7 linked regions of the Homo sapiens genome follow. The protein of the gene in region 6 purifies or fractionates together with the protein of the main gene of each other region. This does not show direct contact. Each region holds a gene or a part of one and is shown on either strand. Other genes may lie near its edges. The genes, in order: MOB2, RPRD1A, SIPA1L1, DDX50, PRP4K, DEPDC1B and SRSF12.

Evidence for each region.
Region 1: the proteins of DEPDC1B (region 6) and MOB2 purify together in Homo sapiens (affinity purification with mass spectrometry, with the first as the bait; one large-scale study listed by BioGRID). This does not show direct contact.
Region 2: the proteins of DEPDC1B (region 6) and RPRD1A purify together in Homo sapiens (affinity purification with mass spectrometry, with the first as the bait; one large-scale study listed by BioGRID). This does not show direct contact.
Region 3: the proteins of DEPDC1B (region 6) and SIPA1L1 purify together in Homo sapiens (affinity purification with mass spectrometry, with the first as the bait; one large-scale study listed by BioGRID). This does not show direct contact.
Region 4: the proteins of DEPDC1B (region 6) and DDX50 purify together in Homo sapiens (affinity purification with mass spectrometry, with the first as the bait; one large-scale study listed by BioGRID). This does not show direct contact.
Region 5: the proteins of DEPDC1B (region 6) and PRP4K purify together in Homo sapiens (affinity purification with mass spectrometry, with the first as the bait; one large-scale study listed by BioGRID). This does not show direct contact.
Region 7: the proteins of DEPDC1B (region 6) and SRSF12 purify together in Homo sapiens (affinity purification with mass spectrometry, with the first as the bait; one large-scale study listed by BioGRID). This does not show direct contact.

The regions. Positions count from the first base shown.
Region 1 is NC_000011.10:1,473,280-1,476,779, forward strand, and holds part of MOB2 (MOB kinase activator 2), read right to left. Parts: intron 1-3,500. UniProt on the Homo sapiens protein: Stimulates the autophosphorylation and kinase activity of STK38 and STK38L.
Region 2 is NC_000018.10:36,061,060-36,064,559, reverse strand, and holds part of RPRD1A (regulation of nuclear pre-mRNA domain-containing protein 1A), read left to right. Parts: intron 1-3,500. UniProt on the Homo sapiens protein: Interacts with phosphorylated C-terminal heptapeptide repeat domain (CTD) of the largest RNA polymerase II subunit POLR2A, and participates in dephosphorylation of the CTD by RPAP2.
Region 3 is NC_000014.9:71,669,976-71,673,475, reverse strand, and holds part of SIPA1L1 (signal-induced proliferation-associated 1-like protein 1), read right to left. Parts: intron 2,358-3,500; coding exon 1,784-2,357; intron 1,129-1,783; coding exon 854-1,128; intron 1-853.
Region 4 is NC_000010.11:68,899,829-68,904,114, reverse strand, and holds the start of DDX50 (ATP-dependent RNA helicase DDX50), read right to left. Parts: upstream 2,801-4,286; 5' UTR 2,731-2,800; coding exon 2,644-2,730; intron 2,060-2,643; exon of another isoform or gene 1,689-2,059; intron 1-1,688. UniProt on the Homo sapiens protein: ATP-dependent RNA helicase that may play a role in various aspects of RNA metabolism including pre-mRNA splicing or ribosomal RNA production.
Region 5 is NC_000006.12:4,055,800-4,059,299, reverse strand, and holds part of PRP4K (serine/threonine-protein kinase PRP4 homolog), read right to left. Parts: exon of another isoform or gene 3,048-3,500; intron 2,980-3,047; coding exon 2,865-2,979; intron 2,774-2,864; exon of another isoform or gene 2,612-2,773; intron 2,265-2,611; coding exon 2,113-2,264; intron 573-2,112; coding exon 486-572; intron 1-485. UniProt on the Homo sapiens protein: Serine/threonine kinase involved in spliceosomal assembly as well as mitosis and signaling regulation. Connects chromatin mediated regulation of transcription and pre-mRNA splicing.
Region 6 is NC_000005.10:60,693,667-60,697,166, forward strand, and holds part of DEPDC1B (DEP domain-containing protein 1B), read right to left. Parts: intron 1-3,500.
Region 7 is NC_000006.12:89,104,572-89,108,071, forward strand, and holds part of SRSF12 (serine/arginine-rich splicing factor 12), read right to left. Parts: intron 2,688-3,500; coding exon 2,583-2,687; intron 2,457-2,582; exon of another isoform or gene 2,110-2,456; intron 1,385-2,109; exon of another isoform or gene 1,319-1,384; intron 980-1,318; exon of another isoform or gene 960-979; coding exon 856-959; intron 690-855; coding exon 548-689; intron 1-547. UniProt on the Homo sapiens protein: Splicing factor that seems to antagonize SR proteins in pre-mRNA splicing regulation.

The sequences.
Region 1 (3,500 bases), on a different chromosome or scaffold from region 6:
TCCCAGGCTGCAGGCCTCACCGTGGGCATCGCCACCAGGCTGTCAGACCCTCTGAGAATGCAGAGACAACAGTCCTTTCAGCATCTGCTCCTCGAGAATGATGTAGAGGACGCACGTATCCCCACTGTCCTGGGGTTCCCAGATGGTGTAGGGGAGGCCCAGCCCCTAAGGGCCAGGCTGAGGCCCATGTTTCCAGGGCGAGGACCCAGCCAGGATGGCTCAGCACTCTGCAGGAGTCAGACACTGGCTCCAGGTACCCTGACACTGCAAGCTGACATCTGATGCACCTGGCCACAGGTGTGCGACAGGTCTCAAAACAGTGGAGGTTAGAGACGGAAACCCTTTTCCACAATGCAAACCCAGAGAAAGCAGTAACTCAGGGACACTGTGGATTGTCCCATCTGTTCTGAAAGATGGAACACCACTGTTTCCTGTACTTCTTCAATTATCAGTAAACCGTTTCTGGTATATAGTTCTAAGATTTTTATCCACATGTGGACTCACGCATTCATAACCACAATCAGGACACGCGGCGGCTTACGTGGCCCCTCACACCCGTGCTGCTGTGCCCCCAGCACCCCGGGGATGGCTCCTCAGGGATGGGCCGCGGGAAGGAATCGCACCGCGCGGATCCTCCCGATCTGGGCCCCTCTTGCACGGAGGCCCCTGGGATGCAGTCACGTGGCAGACGTGTCGGAAGTCCACGGCTCCTCACTGCCCAGACACTGCCCCTGCAGAGATGGACATGGCGTGCTCATCTATTCACCTGTGTCCCTGCCAGCAGAACAGAGTCCCAGGTGGCCACATCCTGGCCAGCACCAGTGTCCCGACCGGCATGTGGGCAGGTGGACATGGGTCTGCCCATGGTTTCGGCTTGCCTTTCTCTAATTGCTAACAACACAGGATAGCCCCAGCTGCCATCCTTACACCCTCTTTGGCAAACTGTCTGCTCATTTCTTTTGCTGACAGTTAACTGGACTGTTTTGTTTTCTTACTGCTGAGTTGTGTATGTTCTTTATGTATTCTGGATATCAGTCCTTTGTGGGATGTGTGATTTGCAAATGTTTTCTCTCCCAGCCTGGAGTTTGTCTTCTTTCTCTTAAAAGTGTCTTGAAGCAAAAGTTCTGAATTTTGCTGCCTAGTGTCAGGTCATAAGGATTTCCTATGGTTTCTTCCAAAAGCTTTGGAGTTTTAGATGTTTGCACGAGGCATGAGGGATAGGTCAGCGTTTGGTTTTTGACACAAATGACTGCTTTTCCCAGCAGCATTTTTGAACAGACTACCCTTTCTCCCTTGAATTTATTTTGCTCTTTGTCAAAACTCTGATGGCCCCGTTTGTGTGGGTCTATCTCCGGACTCTCCATCCACACGTTTGTGTGGGGCTGTCTCCGGACTCTCCATCCACACGTTTGTGTGGGTCTATCTCCGGACTCTCCATCCACACGTTTGTGTGGGGCTGTCTCCGGACTCTCCGTCCACACGTTTGTGTGGGGCTATCTCTGGACTCTACTGTGTTCCATGGAGCTCTGTATCCATTCCTTCAACACTGCACACTGTCTTAATTACTAGAGTTTCACAGTAAGTCTCAAAAGTGTGAGATTCCTCTTATTTTTTCAAAATCATTGTAGCTATTTCAGTTAATTTGTCCCTCCATATAAATTTTAGAACTAACTGGTCTATACTTGAACTCTGCTGGGATTTGGATTGAGACTGCACTAAATCAACAGATCAGTTTGGGGGAGAATTTGTGTTTGGAGTCATCTTCCAGGTGATAAACGCAGTGCGTCTCTCCATTTATGTAGACCTTCGATTTTCTGTAACAGCATTTCGTAGTTTCCAGGGTGCAGATCCTGGGAATGTCTTGTTAAGTTTATAACTAAGGATCGCATTATTTTTGGAGCTATTATAAATGGCATGTTAAATATTAATTTCAGTTTTAAATTTCACATTGCTAATATACAGACCTATGACTGATTTGTGCGTGTTGACCTCACTAAATTTATATTATTATTTGCTACAATCCTTGAGGTTTTCCCAATCACACGTGTGCACAGGGATACAGCAATCCCCCCCATCCACAGGGGATGCACTGCAAGACCCCCAGGGGATGCCTGAAGCCACAGAGAGCACCAAACCCTATATATGCTGCGCTTTCTCCTATACATACATTACTAAAATAAAGACAGGCAGACTTGATTGATTGACTGAGATAGGGTCTCGCTGTGTTGCTAAGTTAGTCTCGAACTCCTGAAGTGATCCACCGCCTCAGCCTCCTGAGTAGCCAGGATTACAGGTGTGAGCCACCACACCCAGTGTAATTCATAAACTGAGGACAATCAGTTGCAGTGAGTGGCTGGGGTCGCATATCAGGGGGTCCCTTGCTGGCCTCCTGCAGGCTCAATGGCAACACGCTGCTGCTCCCATCCTCTCACCTCCTCCACCCACAGATCCAAGTACTCAACACGCACTGTGGCTGTCACTTTTGCAATTTCAGATGTAACAGCGAAATTAAAGGGACTTTTTTTCCCTTTTTCACAATTTCATAAAGAAGAGATTTGTTCTTACCTTAGATCTTAGCAACCTCACACACAATCTGTTTCTTTCTAGTCAGGAACTTTCACCTTTTCATCTTTAGGTCAAGGAAGTGCTTTCTGTCTTCTCTTTGGCATATCTGAATTGCCAGCATCACGCTCTTGCGCTTTGGGCCGCCTCATGTCACATAAGAGCAACCTGAGCACGAGCACCCTGGCACTGCGGCAGTGGATCCACACGGGGGCCGAGGCACAGCTGGGCCGAGGGAGGAGGAGGCACACCTGGAGCAGGACGGTGGAGACCGCATCACACTGCTCAGAACAGCATGCAGTTGAAAACTTATTAACTGTTTATTTCGGGAATTTTCCATTAACTATTTTCAGACCATAGTTGACTGTGGGTAACGGAAACTGTAGATAAGGGGGGCTTATTGTTTTATTTCTTTTCCAATTTGGATGCCTTTTATTCTTTCTTCTTACCTTATGGCACTGCCTATCTTAGGCGAGTTCTGATATACTGCGCTTTCCAAAGAGTTGGTCCATTTAACCCAAGCCATAGAATTCATGTGCACAGAGGGTTTTTTTCCAATACTTCCTTATTATCCTTTTAACATCCACTGGGTCTACAGTGATACTCCTCTTTACATCCACAGGGTTTAGTGACACTCACTCCTTTTTATTGATCATTGCATCTTCTCTCTTATCTTTGTACCTACTAAAGGCTTACCAATTTATTACCTTTCAAAGTCATCACATTTTGATTTCACTCATTTCCCCTATTGTTTTAAAAATCAATCTCAGTGCTTTCTGTTCTTATTTACTTTCTTGTCCTTGATTTTGACTTATTTTGCTCTTTTTCTAGTTTAAGTTGGAAACGTAGATTACTGAAAGTCATCTTCTTTTTCTAAGAAAGCATTAATCCTATAAATCCCCTCTAGGCACTGCTTGAGTTATGTCTCACAAATTCTG
Region 2 (3,500 bases), on a different chromosome or scaffold from region 6:
AGAGTGCTGATTGGTGTGTTTACAAACCTCTAGCTAGGCACAGAGCACTGATTGGTGCGTTTACAAACCTTGAGCTAGACACAGAGTGGTGATTGGTGCGTTTACAATCCTTTAGCTAGACAGAAAAGTTTTCCAAGTCCCCACCTGACCCAGAAGCCCAGCTGGCTTCACCTCTCAATGGCACTCGCCGCGGGACTTTGCGGCACCTAGCTTGGGCACTCTAGCAGCCCAGAGGGAGCTCGTCCCCCATCAAGCCCAGCAGGCACCCACCCGGAACCGCGCGTAGCCCAGGCTCCTGCCGGCGCCTCTCTCTCTACACCTCCCTGAGAGCAGATGGAGCCGGCTCCGGCCTCTGCCAGCCGCAGAGAGGGGCTCCCACAGTGCAGCAGCGGGCTGAAGGGCTCCTTGAGCACGGCCAGAGCAGACGCCGAGGCCGAGGAGGCGCCGAGAGCGAGCAAGGGCTGCTAGGACGTTGTCACCTCTCAATAGGAGAAAGCTATCTAATATTTAATGTATTTAAGAAAATGGTGCAAATGTGGTAAAATTGTAAGATGTGCTTTTAGCAAGGTTTGTGATGTTTCCATATGTTTAAGTGTTTCATAAGTGGAAAACGTTAAAGCATATAAAAAGATGCTTTAGGAGGAGGGTGGTAGTGATGATAGTGTTGATAGTAACGGTGATGCTGATGAACATACCGCTGCCGCTTTAATCCTCATATTAGCCTGGGCTACTCTGCCAAGGGTTTCCTTTTCTTGACAGATGACTGCTTTTGCAGGGTGTAGCCTTTGTGTCCTTCCCCTTTCCTGCAGTTTTGCTCATCAACTTCAGGATTCTCATCTCCTGTAGTTTAATGATAATGGCAATCAGTTACTGAGTACCAGACATTCTTTTAGTTATTTTACCATATCTTGAATCACATTATTTCTGCAGAATAATTATGAAAGGAATCGATCAATCTTGAAAGTATATTACAACAAACTAAAGAAAATTAGTTGAACATTTTGTGTTAAGCTAGGCATTCTTTAGTTTCTCAAAGTGTGTAAAGACAAAAATGTGAGAGTGGGAGAAGCTACTGTTTAAAATAAAAGAATGAGCTGGGTACTGTGGCTCATGCCTGTAATCCCAGCACTTTAGGAGGCTGAGGGAAGTGGATTGCCAGAGCTCAGGTGTTCGAGACCAGCGTGGTCAACATGGCAAAACCCTGTCTCTACAGAAAATACCAAAATTAGCTGGGCATGATGGCGCAGGCCTAAGGAGGCTGAGGTTGGGGGGTCACTTGAGCCCAAGAGGTTTAGGCTGCAGTGAGCCAAGTGCGCCACTGCACTCCAACCTGGGCGACAGAGCAAGGCCCTGTCTCAGAAAACAAACAAACAAAAAAATATAAGAATGAATAAGTAAAATTATATATGTTAGATAATGGTAGCCATTCAGTTATGAAGGTTTCCCTTCTTTTCCTACCTTCCTTATCTTTGTCTCCTTTAAAGAAAGAGTTTCTGTTTGGAGGGATAAACTTCAAGGCCTTTGTGAAGACCAAAATGGCATACAATTTTCCTGATAAATGCAGTAAAGTGTAACCAAAAATGTAAGTGACCATTTTGTTACTTCTTTATTAAGATGTAATTCACATACCACACCTTTTATCCATTCAAAGTATACTATTCAGTGGTTTTTGATATGTTTATAGAATTGTAAAGCTACCACCAGTTTTAGAACATTTTTATTACCCAGAAAGAAACTCCATGCCATTTAGCTGTTGTCCCCAGTCCCCCATCTCTCCCAACCCTAGGCAACTGCTAATTTACTTTGCCTCTATAGATTGGACTATTTTTACCATTTCATATGAATAGAATTATATAGTATGTGGTCTTTTGTGTGTTTTCCATCCATGCTATAACATGGATGAGCCTGGAAAACATGTTAATTAAAAGAAGCCAGTTGCAAAAGACCACTTACTGTCCTTCAGTCTTTTCTATGGCCGAATAGAATATTGTATGAATTTAGCCATTCATCAGTTGATAGACGTTCGAGTTGTTTCCGCTTTTTGGCTATTATAAATAATGCTGCTGTGAGCACTCCTGTACAAGCTTTTTTTTTTTGTGGATATGTTTTCATCTTGGATACTTACTGAGGAGTGGAATTTCTGGGTCATATGGGAATCCTATGTTCAACCTTTTGAGGATCCACCAGGCTATTTTCCACAGTGGGTACATGTTTTTTTTTTTTTTTTTTTTTTTTTGAGACGGAGTCTCGCTCTGTCGCCCAGGCCGGACTGCGGACTGCAGTGGCGCAATCTCGGCTCACTGCAAGCTCCGCTTCCCGGGTTCACGCCATTCTCCTGCCTCAGCCTCCGGAGTAGCTGGGACTACAGGCGCCCGCCACCGCGCCCGGCTAATTTTTTGTATTTTTAGTAGAGACGGGGTTTCACCTTGTTAGCCAGGATGGTCTCGATCTCCTGACCTCATGATCCACCCGCCTCGGCCTCCCAAAGTGCTGGGATTACAGGCGTGAGCCACCGCGCCCGGCCATGTTTTTAAAATACATTCCTACAAGCAGTGTATGAGGGTCCAGTTTTTCTACATCCTTGCTAATATTTGTTATCTTTTTGATTACAGCTGTCCTAGTGGGTATGAAGTGGTATCTCATGATTTTGATATGCATTTCCCAGATGACTAATGACACTGAGCCTATTTTCATGTACTTATTGGCCATTTGGATGTTGTCTGGAGAAATGTCTATTCTGCCTATTTTAAAATTTGTCTTTTTATGATTGAGTTGTAAGTGTTCCCAATGTATTCTAGGTACAAGTATTGTATTAGATTCATACCACAAATATTTTCTTCCATTCAGTGGGTTGTCTTTTTACTTTCTTAATAGTGTCCTTTGAAGGTGACTGTTTTAAACTGTAAATGTCTCAGTCAATACTAGGCTAAATTTTAAAACTTAATATACATCATTAATTTATATTCATTTCTGTAGAAATATTGACCATGAACATACCTGAACTTAGAAACCAACACTAACATTTGGGCTCTTTTCTACACACACTCGCTGAAAGATCTCTATAAGAGCTGTACAAAACAAGATAGATAGGAGGAAATTCTTTGTAGTTGGTGAAGGTCACTGCCTTCCCTAGTCTAGTGATTGTATCCTTTGTACCAGCCTCTTTTATGTTATATTGGTGTCTTAACAAAACTGTAAGTGCCTCAACCCCTTAAAGTATGTTTACTCACCCTGTATTTATTGATTGTGTATTACAATGGTAAAGAAAACAAAGGGAAAACAGTTTATCCCTGCCCTCAGAATTTATAGTCTTGTGGTAAGGGCAACCAATAAACAAAAAATTTTAAATATAAATTTCGTGTTTAGTTCTTTGAAGGAGGAAATCTTTAGTTAGAGGGAAATCATCTCTGCAAGGTGACGTTTAATAAAAGACCTCTTTGAACAAGTTGCGGGGGTAGGGGGGCTTGGGCCTGCAGCCACTGGGAATATGTGAAAGTGCT
Region 3 (3,500 bases), on a different chromosome or scaffold from region 6:
CTTAGTGGCAAAATAGGACACAGAACACTGTCTTGGCTTTAGAAAGCCTAAGAATCAATTGCCAAAGCTTAAGAGAAATTCTTAGAAAATAATGGCATAAACTAAAAAGAGAGATCTTAAAAACTAGCAAAAATAGCATGTGCATGTCCAAAGGAGAAAATAAACAGTTGATTAAATTTCTTCCACCAATAAACCTCCCCAGAGACAGAGAAATTAAATTTTCAACAGTGCTGCTGGCTTGGCAGGAGCTGTGGGGGGTTGGGTGGGGCAGGGAGCTCTTAGGTTTTCCCTTCTGGAAAAGACTAGGAACCAAAATGCCAAAGCACCATGAGCAGGGGCAGCTCACCTGAAGCCAAACCCTAGCACATGCAGATACAGTTAGGAAAGCAGCTGCCAGACTGAGACAGCAAAGGTCCAAACAATTGCTGAGTTTTGGGCAGCAATTAGGAGAGAGAAGAGAATAAGAGCATCATGGAACATAGAAGAAAAGCAATCTGACAATTTGAGATGTTGAGTGTCTTTTAATGTTCAATGTGTTCAATGTTTCTCAGCTCCCAGTGGAAAATTCTTAAGATAGATATTACCAGACTTCTCTATCTGTCATGGCAACTTTATAAATCCAGTGATGTAAATCCTGGGAATGGTCCCATTTAGTCACTCTTTCCAGCTGCTGTCACCACACACTGAAAGGGAGCTTCGTCCTGAGTCAGACTCCATGGATGAAACATTCAGCATCACATGTAACCTATTGTTCTTCACAACACCCTACTCCACTACCTGCTAAGAGATGTTCTACATGGTACACAAACCCTGCACTCGAGTCTCAGGCCCACAGCTGTCTCCTCAGACCTACCTCCGCGGGGTGCAGTCATCATGCGGGGGAATGATGACAACCTTCACCGTGACAGATGTTCTCAGGAGGTCGATCATCTGCTCATGGCTCAGAGTGGCTACCGCCACCTTGCAGATCTCCACCAGGCGACTGCCCTGCCTCAGCCCTGCCTGCCAGGCATAACCGTAGGGCTCCACATCCGCCACAATGCCCTCATAGTTGACATGGAAGCCAAGCTGTCCTAGCCCATTTCTTCGCAGAGTCATCTCCACCGATTCACAGCCTTTTGAAACAAACTAGACAAGGAAATAAAAGATACTGTGGTTTAAAGCAATAGGGTATTAAGTGGTGGACATGGAACTGGAAAATCATTGCAAGCAGGGTTAGTTCTGAATACCTTATTGCCAGCTGAAGAGCAGTCTGGTTATTTCCTCTTCACTAATCTCCTATTCATTAGGCCAAAAGGAATATACTTGTTGCATCCAAAAAGCTCAACGGCTTCCCTGAAGTTACAAGGAAACCTCTACCAGAGACCTACAGGGAGCTGGCAGTAAATAGAAACCATATACTGCTACTCATTTAGCCTTTGTAAAATTCAAGGCAGCAGATACTCAAGCAATTCTTTTCAACACCACCACCAGATGACTGGACTGCAGCACCAGGGAACAGGTCACATGCAAATGGGTTTTGAACATGAACGCACACACACACACACACACACACACACACACACACACACACAGAGTAAATGTGTCTTCCCCAATTTGTTCTACTTTTCCGAAACATCCATGGAAAACACAAGCATGAGATAAACTCTGTTTGCTTCACACATCAAGGGAGTTTTCAGAGGAGCTAATAACAGAGCACAAGGTTCAGTAACTTGGCTCTAGTCTGTATTGAAAACTTTATGAAAGAGAAACTGCATGTAAGGAAGAGGAAGGAGAGACTCACCTGCAACCTTTTGACAATCTCTTTGATCTCCTCAATGTTAATAAAACTACCCACTGAAACACATTCTCCTCGTTCATAGAAGATTTTGAGGCTGGTGTCAGTTGAAGTCCACCCTATCACATCTCTACAGGAACAATTGAAGACCACGCTCTTTGTTTCCTGTTCAATGAGCACAATGAACTCATTGGAGATCCCTAAAAGGCAGTCTAGTTCCATGGCCTTGTTGTAGTCTTCAGCCCGGACTGCCCATACAATGGCCCCCATGCTGCTGAGCTCGGCTCCTGGATATGGCTTAGACTTTTCCTTCTTCTTGGAAGCCAGAGAGATGAACGGAAACTTGCCAGAAGGGTCGATAGGGGTGTTGGTGACATTCTTTTCTGCCAGATCTTTCAGGTATTCCTGGCGGGTCCGAGTTGCCATGGCCCGAAACTTCTCCGATTTATGAGCAGCATTTTCTGCATTAATCACTTTCGCCAAAAGGAAGTCCCTGAACACATTTGACTTAGGGAAAGTGACCCCTTTAGGAATGGGAGGCCCAAAGGAAGGCACATCTCTGGACCTGGTAACAGCCACACTGAGAGACAAAGATCAAAGAGAGCCACGTCAGTATTTCTCAGTCTCACAACATCAGAATAAAATATACTTTCTCAAAGACAAAGATGTACCTCAGATACAAAATAGCTGCTTATTTTTCCATGAGAAACAACACACATTTCTGCTTAATACGAGTATATTTTTTCATTCTACCGCATTTAGGATTTACACAACATAATTTTTTTTCTAGGCCAAAAACAAACCTCCCAAAATCCCAAAAGCTAACACTATTAACTTTTTTTTTACCAGACAGGAAACTGACCAAAACTCCATGAAAAAAAATAGGTTTACTGTAATATTCTGTGTAAGACATTTTAAATACCTACTAACTGTTTTCAAGGGAGGTTACTGTAACCACATCATCTTTCAGAACAAGCATACATTCTGTGAGAACACAAATGTGTTCTCCATTTTAGATATGATGGCTATAAGCAGACAGCTTACATTGAAAATATCAGAAGATGCATGCCATAAAAGAAATGAATTAAATTTCAATAAAACTTAACTAGTATTTGTTGGCCTAAGTGTGAGGCATTATGCAACCAGATTAAAAGCATAATTTTAAAATGAAAATTGGAATCTGAGTAATAGTATGAGAATCTTTATGTAATAGCAACAACGCTTTAAAATCATATTTTTAAACTGAGCTATTCCTTGGTCCTTTTGGTATTTTATTCTGATAATCTATTTCTAAGAAAAATATTTTCCTTCTCCCATTCCTTTAAGCAAGATTGATATAAGAAAGCCTGTTCCAGTCATTTCTTCTGACTATATATTCCTAAAATTGGGCCTAAGAAAAGGATCATATGAACATTTGTAATAACTTATTATTTTTAACCTCAAAAGGAAAAAAAGTAAGTTTCTCCTAAAACAACAAAGGAAGTTGTTGATATAGAAATAGAGAGGTTGAGTGTTTTATATCATTTCCCAAGATTTTAGTAAAGTTTGACATGACTGGAAATGATTCTAACACATCGAAGATCGCTCTTTCCAAATTAAAAGTGAACAAATTATGCAATTATACTTAGTATTAGGGAAACAATAAAAAAATCGGTTTCTTCTGAACTCTTGGAATAGAAATGGCATCATCAGAGAGTATGCATCTTTCAAATAAAATTGAAGA
Region 4 (4,286 bases), on a different chromosome or scaffold from region 6:
TGGTGTGCAATGACGTGATCTTGGCTCACTGCAACCTCTGCCTCCTGGGTTCAAGCAATTCTCCTGCCTTAGCATCCCGAGTAGCTGGGATTACAGGCGTCTGCCACCACGCCCAGCTAATTTTTTTTTTTTTTTTTCTGAGACGGAGTCTTGCTCTGTCACCCAGGCTGGAGTGCAATGGTGCGATCTCGGCTCACTGCAACCTCTGCCTCCCAGGTTCAAGCAATTCCTGTATCTCAGCCTCCCGAGTAGCTGGAATTACAGGCACGCGCCACCACACCCAGCTAATTTTTGGGTTTTTTGGGTTTTTTTTTTAAATGGAGTCTCGCTGTGTCACCCAGGCTGCAGTGCAGTGGTGCGATTTCAGCTCACTGCAACCTCAGCCTCCCGGGTTCATACGATTCTCTTACCTCAGCCTCCTGAGTAGCTGGGATTACAGGCATGTGCCACCATGCCCAGCTAATTTTTGTATTTTTAGTAAAGACGGAGTTTCACCATGTTGGCCAGGCTGGTCTCGAACTCCTGACCTTAGGTGATCCACCTGCCTCAGCCTCCAAAAATGCCGGCATTACAGACGTGAGCCACCGCACCTGGCCTTTTTTGGTATTTTTAGTAGAGATGGTGTTTCACCATGTTGGCCGGGATGGTCTCGATCTCCTGACCTCACGATCCACCCGCCTCAGCCTCCCAAAGTGCTGGGATTACAGGAGTGAGTCACCATGCCCGGCCCAATTTTTATATTTTTAGCAGAGATGGGATTTAACCATGTTGGCCAGGCTGGTCTTGAACTCCTGACCTCAGGTGATCTGCCTGCCTCAGCCTCCCAAAGTGCTGGGATTACAGGCATGAGCCACCGCACCCGGCTAATTTTTTTATTTTTTGTAGAGACAGGGTCTCTACAAAACTCTACCTAAACTTCTGGGCTCAAGCAATCCTCCCATCTCAGCGTCCCAAAGTGCTAGGATTACAGGCATGAGCCACTGCAGCTAGCCACCAGACCTGTATTCTAATGCTCTATTTCTTTTAGTTGGTATTCCAATTCGTTTCCAAATCTCTGGTTATCTTTCATAGTTAAAGGGCAGTCAATATGTATTTCTGGAGAATTTACAATGTGAAAGCCACCAATTTAAAACAACATAGTGAAACATAAGGATGGATAAAGATTTGGTCACTTTCCTCAAGAACTTTTGGGAAATATGTGGGATACATACAGGAAAAATGAACTAATTTTATATAGACATGCATAACAAATGTCAATCAAATGATGAAGATAGCCACTGAAACTAGATAACGGTACATTCGGGTTGTCAGGAAAGACATAAACTAGGCCTTGACCGCTGGACAGGATTGGGATGCAAAAGACAAGAATTTCAAAAGAAGCCTTTTTTAAAATACCTGCTTGGTTTTCTGCTTACACTCTAGGTAACTTCAGTAGTCAAATTCACAGAGCGAAAGTAGAATGGTAGTTGCCGGGAGTGGAAGGAGAGAGGAATGAGAAGTGAGTGTTTAATGGGCACAGAGTTTCAGTCTGGGACAATGAAAAGTTCTGGAGATGGATGATGGTGACAGCTGCAAAACGATGTAAATATACTTAATGTCACAGAGCTATATACTTAAAAATGGTTAAAATGATAAACGTTATGTGTATTTTAGCACAATAAAAGTGTTAGCTGAAATGGCAAGTTTACCTTAGTGATAAGGTCAGAGAGGTAGATTCTGCTTTCTAAGGCTATACAAAATAAGTCTCATTCTTTTGTCGAATGTCAGCCTTCGAATACTGCCACCTTAGCCTCTTCAGCTGATTTCTTTTTTCCAGGTCAAATGTCTCCAGTAATAATTTTACCTGGGCATTTTTTCAGCACCTTGTGATCCTCTGAGTGTTTCAGGATGTTTTTTCTTTTCCTTTTTTTTTTTTTTTTTTTTTGGAGGGCAGGGGGCTGGGAGGAGGAAAGACTACAACTCCTCTACAGGCTCCTTGAGAGCAGAGACCATTTCTTTACTTATTTAGTTTAACCTCCTTGGTACTCAGCAAAGAGTATGGTACAAATTAGGTTCAATAAACACCTGCGGATTGAATGAAAATACTGACAGTAAAGGCTATTAATAATGCAACCCACACGATCTCCATCACTGACAAATCCTGGCAAGTCTCAGTGACACTTTTCCTTAAGCCTCTACAGACTAGTTATTGAGGTCTGTAAACCTAAGATCGCTTTCCCCAGGATTCTTGCACAGGGGACGGGGTGACAGAAGCAACACATATTCAAAGCAATCATTTTTTCTTAATCATCTTCTAAGAGGGCCAATGAAAACGAAATGGCAAGCGTCACTGCTTCAGGAGAGAAAGAACAGATTCCATGGTGATGGGAGCTTGAGTCTGCCCATCTGAGATTCAGGCGCCAACGGGAAGGGCTGAGGGGCCACGCGGAGGAGAGGCCCAAAGCCCAGGGCCATCTTTCTCCAGGTCGGGAGGGTGGAGGTGGAAACGGTCCCTGAGCGACCCCAGAGGGCCGAGGGCGGCGCGAAGGGAGGCCCTCGGATGCTCCGGCCCGGTTCTGACAGGCCATCATCAGGGACAGACAGTTCCCCTCCCCGCCCAAGCCGGCGCAGCCCAAAAGGAGGCGCGGCCCATGCTCAGCGCACCTTTTGCCTCTCCTTCTTCTGGCTCTCGGACTCCTCCAAGGGTGCTTCCAGCTCCATAATGTCCCCCCAGAGGAGTTTCCCAGGCATTACTGGCCACCGCCGCCTCCCTCCGGGCACAGTGGCCACAACCACCTACGGGCAGCGACAGCGTGAAAGGAAGCGGGGGCAAGGCGGCCGCCCGGCCTTGGCCATGCGTCACTTCCGGGACACGCACCGCACGGCGGGGAAAAATAATCCCGGATACTCTCGGTTTAAGACCTTCCATTGCGCCGCAACCTCTCAACCAATGAGTGTGAGAGATATCAACGGGCCCGCCCTTGTTCTGAAGTGATTGGTTACTAGAGTAAAACCCTGGCCAATCTCCATAAAGGAAGCATGCACTGATTAACATAAATAGTTCGGTTTATCTTCCCCTCCCCCACTCCGAACGGGTCTCCTCGGCCTCGCAGAGCCTTTTGGGGGCTTCCCAGTACGCACTGCTAGGGCTGGGAAGCCCTTCAACGGCGGTAGACAGGGTCCGGCGCGCGCTGGGCGGGTGCGTGGGCAGGCCCATGCCGAGGCCAGTGGGCAACGCCGCGCGCCGCCTCGCCATTTGCAGCCGGAAGCTGAAGCCCTCCATCCCGCCCATTGCGGGGGAGATGTTAACGACCAACAGCTTCGCGCGAGGCCACAGGCCTGGCGTCGGTGGAGAGGGGCTTCGCGCAGTTTGGGGTGGGCCAGATGGGCCGGAGGTGTAGCCAGGAACGGACAGATGTCCGTCTCTTAAGTCTTAGGTTTTAATCGTGAAGCTGATCCCTGGTTCATTGTGATCCTTCTCACGCTGTCCATTTGACATAAGAAACCCGAGAAAGGAATGTACTTGTCTGAAGTCCCACAGTCTGTTAGTGGCACAGTCAGGACTAGAGAATTTAGCTCCTGAAGCCGAGATCAATGCTCTTTCTGCCACATCAGCCTGAGAACTTTGAGTTTTGCAGTGTTTTGGGGAAGATGCTCCCGTGAAACAATGAACAGGAAAAACCTGAAGAAGCCTCACATTTTCTGCTAGCGAGAAAAGCCAAAATGTCTTCCACAGATTATCTATTTGCAATGAATAAAAAAGGATTTAATTTTAGTGATGGAGATTAACTGCCCGTGAATCACCACCTTACACAAAACTGAAACCTTTGACAATACAAAGGGTAACTTCCTTAGTGTTTCTATACCTTTGCTTACTATCACCGAGGCTAGTTGGCTTTTCACAGCCATTTCTTCATCTCTTCATGATCCTTGCGACCCAGCTACTCTACCCAATGGAGACACAGGGCTACTCTCACAAACCACTTGATAACGTCTAGCACACCAGCCTTAAAACCTAAGCATCAAACTGTGTCCTAGCAAAATTACAAATTGTTACATGTCGTGGAGTTTGGGAATTGGTCCTGAATAGCTGGAACCACAAATGTTAAATCTGTGATTGCTTCAAGCCTTCTGCATAACTACGGCTTGGCCTGAAGGCAAGGGCTGTATGTTTGCATGTAACTTTATGGATTCAATACTTAGAAACACAAGGAGTGTTCAGCTATTGATGACGGAGAAATCCACCTCTCTTCCTAGGTTATGAGAATAGCTATGCATCTCTAGATCTGCGGTTTTCCACATCCTTT
Region 5 (3,500 bases), on a different chromosome or scaffold from region 6:
AGCACGCCTTCTGGCCAAATGTGGAAAGGTGGGGGTTCTGAATGTACTGAAGAGAGGTCTGAAAACTGAAGAAAGCAGTTGGATTTGTCATTCTGAGGAACTTAAATATTATTTCATAGGTAACAGGGAGCCAACAAAGGTTTTTAAGCAGGGATAGGAACATGACCAGATATGTTTTCAGAAACATCACTCTAGCAGCAATAAGAAAGCTGGATGGGAAGCCAGACCAAGAAAGTAATCCAAAGAAGATGTGACGAGGGCCTAAATATGACCTATAATAAAAATAAATTAATTATGCTAGAAAAACATTTTAAAATCCCTCCATCTTTTCCATGGTCTGATGTGTTTTATTTAGGAATTGGTCGACAGCAAAAAGGAAATACTTACTTTTGGGTTTTTGTTTTTTTTTTAATTCACCAGCTCGTATGATTTAGTACTCAGTTAACAATAAAATAACTATTGCATGCTGCATTTAAAACACTTACCCTCTCTGTTACTTTATCAACTTCTATGTACATGAAGTTGAGATTTTGATCAAAATGCTGATCTTTGAACACACCTTTTCGAATCATCTACAAAACAAAACAAAAACTTGGGTTTTGAACTATTATGAAACAGGCCTACTAACAATTTAATTAATATACAATAAGTCAAATAAGTATGTTATTTAGTCTCTGTAGGTTTGTTTGATCTCAGATTCCCTTGATCCCAGGAATTCATTAACATCTTTGCAAAAGCAAATACCAATGCTGTACCTAAAACTACTTAATAACATGAAATTATATTTGTCCAGGCAGTGACTTAAAACAATTATAACATCAAATTGTCCTTTCACTATTTAAAATTGGAGAGTCAACAAAGACTTTAAATTATTTCTTCCTAAAAATATCACAAAACTCAGGTTTTTTCTCCTTGGCAGTTAGGGAACCTAATGCCACTTTACTAATTATGTTCCAACAGCCCTGATACAGGTCAGACTTCATTAAAACTAATACCAACATAGCTCATTTTTATGTAACTTATTCTAAAAAAAGTCCAACCTAATAGAATTTGGACAATATGTACAAATCAGCCTGGTCAACATAGTGAAACTCCATCTCTACAAAAAAATTATTAAATAAATTAACTGGTTGTGGTGGCACATGCCTGTAGTCCCAGCTACATTGGAGACTGAGGCAGGAGAACTGCTTGAGCCCAGGGGTTCGGTTCAAGGCTGCAGTGAGCTATAACTGTACTCCAGTCTGGGACACAGAGCAAGATCCAGTCTCAAAACAACAACAACAACAAAACACAACTGAAAACCATACAGTTTTCTGACCTTTACGAAAAATGTGTAAATCTTTAGAAATTCAGCAAATAGGCTGAAATCTTAAAAAGCTAAGTTACAGCCGGGTGCGGTGGCTCATGCCTATAGCTACTCGGGAGGCTGAGGCAGGAGAATGGCATGAACCCGGGAGGCAGAGCTTGCAGTAAGCTGAGATCGCGCCACTGCACTGCAGCCTGGGCGACAAAGCAAGACTCCGTCTCAAAAAAAAAAAAAAAAAAAAAGCTAAGTTATGGCCCTCAGATACTTTAATAAATGCTTACATTCTTGCTTCATGTTAAACAGAAACTAGCATTATAGCTGAAGTATCAGCGGTGAGTTAGAAAGATATTAAATAAGAAAAGGTACCAAGAAAGGTACCTTACTTTCTCAAATAACCTCCAATCTTTAATAAATTAATTAACATCAAGTTCCTCTTACAATATCTAATATTCACCTATTCATTCTCTGACCACTAAGCATGTTCTTGTATTTTACCTAATTCAACTTACATCTTTTTCCATTCTGTCTTCCAAACATTTTGAAACTTTTACCCATAAGGGTGTATCCCCAAAATATTGCTGCTCTCTGTCCATCATTGAACAAGTTCTCTTATCCTTAGCGCTTGGCTGATTAGAACCACTAATTTAAAACACCAGAAAAGGGAAAGACCCTAAGAAATCATGATAGCCATCTACCCACCTTTCTGAAATTTTTGTTTTATAGCTCACTAGTGGTGAGCAAGTGTCAGCAGTCTTGTCAGTTAATAAGAAACTAAGACCTTAAAGAAGCTCATGCTAATGTCTTACCTTATTTGGCATCTTTCCTTTGAGATCCATTGCAAGCTTCAGCATATGGTTATTGGTTTTGCCAGGGAATAAAATTTTTCCAGTATAGAGTTCGTATAAGGTGCAACCTACAGACCACATATCTATACCATAGTCATAGCTTTTACCTATAACTGAAAACAAAATCAAAGTTTTAATATACGAGGATAGAGAAAACTGACGACTATTAATTTTTATTTCCATTAATGAGGGGCTGGCTACCTTAGCTTGGACTATAACCACAATCTTCATGCCTTAGTTTGACAATTAGTTTTGTGTTCTTTCCCACTAATTCTTAATAGAGACTCAAACTTAAAAACCTTAAAAAATGGAGGTGTAGGGGAGGAACTTAAAGGGCAAAAGAAAATATGTATTTCTTCTCTTTTCTCATTTCGCCTTTGGTGGAGGTGCTAATCAGCCTCAACCAAGGCAACAGGAAAAAACAAAGGTCCCATACAATCCATAAATGTGATAATCAGACCTTGAATAATCAAGAGCAGTCTTCTAAAGTCGAGGATTTTCCACAACTGTTTTGCTACTCTTGCCCGACATGATCAAGACTCCTGTCACAACTACCTTCATTCCACCTGAGGAGGATGAACTTGCTATGGTTCCCTTCCTCATGAATGAACTCGTGCAGCTGCTGAAGTGTGATGGAAAACAGTGCTTAGACATTAAGTATGCGGTTTCCACCACATATGATGGCCCAGGTCAAAGAACATTAAGAAACTTACTGATTTCAGGAGCACGATAAAATCTACTGACAAGATAAGGTGTTATGTCATTATCCGCAACATGTGAAGCCGACCCAAAATCGCAAAGCTTTAAAATAGTTTTGGATTCATTAACCTGCAAAACATTTTTTCAAGGGAATTTAATTCAAGCCAGGAATAATTAATACAAATAAATAAAAATTATTGGCTTTGAAAAGTTTTATTAATTCCAATACTGAGAACAAAGACATTCATTTAAAAATTCCTTTTCTATTTATTTTTAATTCAATTTCCTAACTATGAAAAGTTAATATGTATCAAATATTCATTACAATGAGTAAAAACTGTTTTCAGTGAGGAAATGGATATCACAAAGTACATTTAATTTTAACAACTGCATTTTTAAAAGGGTGGGGTACTGAGAGAAAAATCTAATTTCATGAAGCAAAGCATCTTCTAAAAAGACCCTGAATACCTGAATAAAGTCAAGTTTTATAACTAAGGAATCAGACTTAACTTTCAGTTGCCAGAGAATTACAATGGCAATGAAAGCAGAAGGGTGATTCAGAATAAACTTGGACAAAAACAAAATATTCTTCATCCGAAGCTGCTATATGATCCCAAATTTAGCAATCACTTCAAGTCTAAAAAATATTA
Region 6 (3,500 bases):
AATCCTGTGCTACGGACTTTTCTTCAAGTAGTCATTTCACTATACCAAGTACCTATGGATATTACCATACCTTTAAACAATTTTCACATATTTTTAATCATTGATTATTGATTTTTTTAATACATGCCCTGATACCTAGCTTTCATTTATCATTAGATTGTTGTACCGAAAAGGCATAATCAAGTATGTAGGGCCGGGGGAAGGGGTAATAAAAAAGATTTTTGTTTATGTTGGTTGAACAATCATAATCATGAACTAAAATTACCTAATGCATAATACCTTATGCATTACATAAACATAATGAAGGCATGGCTCTCTGGGACCCAATATTTCCAAATATCACTAGGTATATCCACTAATTGACCCAGTCTGGTTAGCAGTTCTGTTGTTCTTTTAATTACAGAAGTAATAACACTCATTGAAACAAACAAATTAAATACAGAAGTATACACAAAAGAGTTTGCATGTCTTACTCCATACCTATCACATACAGACACATAGACAGAATTTTTCCTTTGTAGGTGTGTCATTTATTGTTGTTTGCCATTTTAAAAAATGAGATCAATCATGTTGTATATGTTATCCTAAAACACGCTTTTGCACCTAACAGATACCTCCCTGCGTCATACCTGCAGATCTAGCCCATTCTTAAGAATGTGCCATAATTTATTCTGCCATTTTCTAACAAATGGTCATCCAAGTTCTGCCCAGTTCAATTTTTACAAATATGTTACAAGTTATACTTGTTTATATAACCTAAAGTACCAAGGCTTTTGTTTACTTTTGATAGACTTCTAAAAAGTATCAGCATATTTAAATCAGTTGTAGCAATTCACACTTCCACCAACAATGTGGGAGCCTAAAGCCTTACACTTTGGCCTACACTAGATGTTATCATTTCTTTCATTTCTGCCAATCTATGTAAAAGAAATGATAGATCCATATTTTGTTTGCATTTTCATATCTTTACCTTTAGTCATATTCATTTCTTCTTCTGAGATTTGCCATTTTTCTATTGGGTTATCTCTTTTTTAAAATCAATTTTAAGAACTGTTTAATCTGTTAATGTTTAAAGGGCACAGAAGTCAGGAAAGTTAATCGATTTTGTTCAGCTCAATATCCTCACAACAAAGACCAGTGCCTGACATATAGTATACCCATTTAATATGTACTGATGAATATAGAATATTAAACCTTTTTGTTATATGTTACAAATGTTTTATCTTAGCCTATCAATTTCTTTACATAGTCTCTAGCTATACAATGATTTTGTTGTAGATGTTGATGTTTTTATAAGGAAATAATTATCTATTTTCTTTATCAGTTCAGGGTTTATTCTCTTAAGAAAGCTTCCCTATCCTGAGGTATTAAAATATTTATCAAAATTTCCTTTTAATATTTTAGAGGGTATGTTTTTTAATATGTAAACCTTTAACTGAATTTTATATGGTGGGAGGCAGGGGATCTCTATTTTTTTCTGGATGGAGAGTTGTGTTAGTCCATTCTTGCGTTGCTGTAAAGAAATACCTGACACTGGGTAATTTATAAAGGAAAGAGGTTTAATCAGCTTACGGTTCTGCAGAGTGTACAAGAAACATGGTGCCAGCATCTGCTCAGTTTCTGGTGAGGCCTCAGGAAGCTTTTATTCAAGGCAGAAGGTGAAGCGGAAGCAGGCAGAAGGAGGCACATAACACAGCAAGGGGGGAACAAGAGAGAGTGAGGGACAGGGTGCCACACTTTTAAACAATCAGATCGCACATGAACTCAGAGTGAATACTCACTCATTGTCATGAGGACAGCAACAGGCCATTCATGAGTGATCTGCCCCAGTGACCCAAACACCTCCACTAGGCCCCACCTCCAACACTGTGGATTACATTTCAACATGAGATTTGGAGGGGATAAACGTCCAAACCATATCAAGAGTCAATTATGCCATGCTTTTCTAAATGAACAGAAATATTATTAAGTAACCTTACATATCACACTTCTTGATTGTTTCTATCCCACTGAGCGACTATCTGTTCCTGTGTAATACCATACAGTTGTCATTACAGTCAATTAATACCAAGTATAAATCCCTGGTAGGACAAGGCCCCTGTCTTCTTTGTAAGGGAATGTGAAAACTTCTTTCTTTTTTTATTTTTTTTGAGACAGAGTCTCGCTCTGGTGCCCAGGCTGGAGTGCAGTGGCGTGATCTCGGCTGACTGCAACCTCCGACGCCCTGGTTCAAGTGATTCTCCTGCCTCAGCCTCCCAAGTAGCTGGGATTACAGGCATGTGCCACCACACCCAGCTAATTTTTGTATTTTTAGTTGAGACGGGGTTTCACCATGTTGGCCAGGATGGTCTTGATCTCCTGACCTCGTGATCCACCCGCCTCGGCCTCCCAAAGTGCTGAGATCACAGGCATGAGCCACCGCACCCAGCGTGAAAATTTCTTTTTGTGAAGTTCATTTCTTTTTGTGAGGGAAAACTTTTTTCAGTTCTCAGAATTTTACTCTTCAGCATGAGCTTTCAATTCATTGCATTCTCCCACACAGGAAAAAAAAATCCATTAGGATTCAGAATGGATTAACTGCTCTATTGCTACTGACTTTTATTTCATACTAGAAAATGTCTAATAAAACATCTTTATCAAAGTCTCATTGCCCCTTTTAAAAAGAGCATTTATAAATAGACTTTTGAATTTACTCATTTTGATTTTGAATGGCATTTATCATTATGGGTTATATTTCCTTAATATATGAAATACTTTAGATTTTTTAAAGCCTACTGAGGTCACTTTGGTCTCTGTTCCCACTTATTTCCAAATATAACTAAGGGGTTATTTGGCTACTCTGCTCAGAAAGAAAAATAAGTATCTTTAAATAATCTAACAATATACCATTCTCAGTCACTTTTGGAAACAAAATATCCTCTGTCAATAAATAACAAGAAAGAGCTTGAGTTTTTTTTTCATGACATTATATTTGAAGAGAATCTTTACAACAAATGGAACAAAACAGATTTGTTTTATGATTTTAAAACACTTTTTGTTTTGCTCTACTTATTAATTTCAGTCCCCTAGTTTCTCAGGAAAAAATAAAATCACACAATTGTTTTTTCTTAACATGATGAGGCAAACTATAAGACATACACCTACTGCTGTGCATCCTGTTCTTTTCTCCAGGATATTCCATTTCATTTCTTCTTAGTACCAAAAATATTATGATAGCGGTGCTATAAAGAAAACTGACTGGTCTGGGAGTTCAGTGACAACCACTCCTAGATCTACTTGCACTTGCCACAACCTCGTTGTGTGATCTTGCCATTCTAACTCTCAGATTCAATGAAAGCTGTATGTCTTTTAAAATTTATCAGTTGCATCAGACCATATATATAACTCAGAATAAGTTCAAAGATTTAAGCAGTTTCTAGAAAAAAAATTTTTCTCTCTACTTGAATGAACTATTTATACCAAGTTTACAAAGATGAAAGTTATTTCAGTGAAAATGTATA
Region 7 (3,500 bases), on a different chromosome or scaffold from region 6:
CTATATATTATCTTCTCATGTAAAAAGATAAAGTTAAGTCTGTAACTTTAACAGAAGAATTAATCCCATAAACCCAAGTTAAATAACAATATATGATAAATAGAGAAGAGTGTTATCTTTTAACAAAAATTGATTATGTTTGTACATTAAGCAAAATGACTAAGGTGGACTGTTTATAAAAACTTTAAAATATTTTCCAGGCTGGGTGCAGTGGCTCACACCTGTAATCCTAGCACTTTGGGAGCCTGAGGTGGGAGGAACACTTGAGCCCAGGAATTTAAGACCAGCCTGGGCAACATAGCGAGACCTCCAATCTCTACAAAAAATTAAAAAAATTAGCCCAGTGTGGTGGTGCACACCTGTAGTACCCGCTACTTGGGAGGCTGAGGTGAGAAAATTGCTTGAGTCTAGGAGGTCAAGTCTACAGTGGGCCATGATCGCACACTACTGCACTCCAGCCTGGGAAACAATGAGACCCTATCAAAAAAATATATATCTATTTCCCAGAAAAAGTAGAAAATGAAATTTTCAGTCCTCTTATACTCACTCTTTAAGGCTGTCTGACCGCCTCCTATTTCTTCCCCATGAAGAACTTCTACTTCGAGTTCTTCTTTGGCTGGGGCTTCTTGATCTCCTGTGATCACTTGGAGAACAAGGATGACGTTCTTTTGATTTCATTTGGCCTGGTGCTGGAACATAAAGAACAAGACTTATGACATAATTCGTTACCTGAACACCACAGTAACAACCACTCAACTAGCAATCATTTACTGAAAGAATTTTAAATTAAAAAATCAGTCATCACTGAAACTCATTCTGCTGAATAAATAAAATCTAGCATTCAGTCACACTTACTTTTGCGATCACCTTGTGCAAACTGTATTTCAATCTGACGGCCACATACCCACTTTCTATTGAGGTTATAAAGAGCATCTTCAGCATCTCGAACATCTTCAAATATGACTAGCTGTTAAGGACACTTTGAACATGAGATATCAAGTAAACATATTTTAAAAGCATTATTTACATGTGAAATGAAATTAATAGGAAAATCAAGTTCAAGTTATTAAGCTCACATCTTCAATATAATATGAATAATCAGAAAAAAAACTTTCACTTTTTCTCATGAAAACAAATGACCCATTATGTTTAGAAGAGTGAGTCTAAAAATAAAAAGAACAAAACAAACATGTAACTGTACTTTTAGTGTCTACAATAGTGTGGCTGCAGTATGCATGTATAATTTGAAAACAAGAAAAACAAAAAAAAAGTCCAAATTTGGCTAGCATTATAAAATTACAAACTGTTTAGGACTCACTCCCTTCTTTCAGATAAAGGATCCATCAGATTTTTCACTGAATATCAGCATGCAGAAGCCTTTATTCTGAAATTAAAATTACTCTTTCATTAAAAGGCTTAATTTTAAATTTGACATTTAAGAGAGATTACTTATAAACAAAACTGCACATATACAAGTGAGTTAAAACAAAACCGGATTTAGTGCTTTAAAAATGGTATCTACTTTTGAACCTACCACTTTAAATGTTTATGTTTTTTTCTGTTTTTGAGATGGAGTTTCCCTCTTGTCACCCAGGCTGGAGTGCAATGGCGCGATCTCAGCTCACTGTAAGCCCAGGTTCAAGAGATTCTCCCGCCTCAGCCTTCCAAGTAGCTGGGACTACAGGTGCCCGGCACCACACCCGGCTAATTTTTGTATTTTTAGTAGACACGGGGTTTCACCATGTTGGTCAGGCTGGTCTCAAACTCCTGACCTGAGGTGATCCACCCGCCTCAGCCTCCCAAAGTGCTGGGATTACAGGCATGAGCCACCGCACCCAGCCAAACATTTATGTTTTTACTACTTGGGATATAAATATAAAAGAAACATAAAAGCAATCTGTAAATATCTGGAATTACATATACTGGTTTGTAATATCCCACTAAACTTCCTTATGTATATAAATTATATAATATTAAACCTAGCTATAATGGAAATTAGCTATATAAAAATAAGTAACTTTTTTTAGGAGGTTGTTCACTGGTTTAATTAAAAAAATAACAAACAGAAAAAGCTCAAGATACACAATATAAAACGAGACTGGCAATTACCTCAATGTCACTTGATCTTGAACCTTGACCTTTACTCTTTAAGGCTTGCAAGATGGACTTTATAAGAGACGCAGAACCAACAAAATCAGACTTGGCTTTGACTCTGGAACTCTGAGTAAATGTAGGAAAGCCGAAGTCTCAACCTGGTGTTGGCTTTGTCTTTTGCTTGATAAAGACTTCCCCTCTTCCAGGTCTTTATATCTGTGTCCACCCTCCCTCTTTACTCCTTGATGCTTGAACTTTAGGTGCCTTTTGTCTCGCCTGCTGGGTTTATGCTTGGATTCTAGCTAACAGGTTGGTTCAAACTGGGGGGTGCTTGCCAGCTACTGTGGACTGCTTTAGATCTTCTGAGATAAAGAAATAAACACATTTAATTAGGCAATATTAATCTCATAACATATGCTACTGAATACATATATGTATAAGCACGCATATACAGTATATTCACATGCACACAATAAAATAAAGGATATTGAACATAAGCAAATCCTCTTGGGCGGCGAGTGTAGAAGTCAAGTGGAATGTAAACGTCTACTATAGGGCCATATCGACCAAACTCACGGCGCAAGTCCTCAGGCCTGAAGTGTTTTAGAAATAAGGCAAAGAAATATGAATAGCTGGATTAAAATATTTTGCCTACAGAAATCCACTTGAAACCTTCAAAAGAAAGAACATCATCTAGACCAGCATTATCTAAAATTGTTTTTTGTAAGAATCATGCAAGGTTTTGAAAGAAAGGGAAAAAAGAAAGGAAAAAAACATTCTCAGGCCAGGTGTGGTGGCTCACACCTGTAATCCCAGCACTTTGGGGGACCAAGGTATGTGGATCACTTGAACCCAGGAGTTCAAGACCAGCCTGGGCAACATGGTGAAACCCCGTCTCTACAAAAAAATACAAAAATCAGCCAGGTGTGGTAGCGTGTGCCTGTAGTCCCAGCTACTCGGGAGGCTGAGGCGGGAGAATCACCTGAGTGAGCATGGGGAGGTTGAGGCTGCAGTGAGCCAAGATCACACCACTGCACTCCATCCAGCCTGGGTGACAGAGTGAGACCCTGTCTCAAAAAAAAAGAAAACACGAAAAAAACCTCCCTAGATTCTCAGACCTCTCTTGGAGGTTCTGATTCAGGAAGTATGGATTAGAGGCTGGAAATCTGTATCTTTACAAGCACTCCAGGTGGTTGTTATGCTTAATTTCCAGAAACACTGACCCAGCATATCCACCTCTGAAAGTTATTATAAGACCTAATAAGTAATTGTTTCACTAAGAACACATTCATTTTGCTTCACTTTAATTTCATGTTTATGTTAATCTTGTTTTCAGATAGCAAGAATTAGATTCTAAAGAAGTCCTAAAATTATTTATCAGGCTTTAAAGAAAAATGGATGTTTTA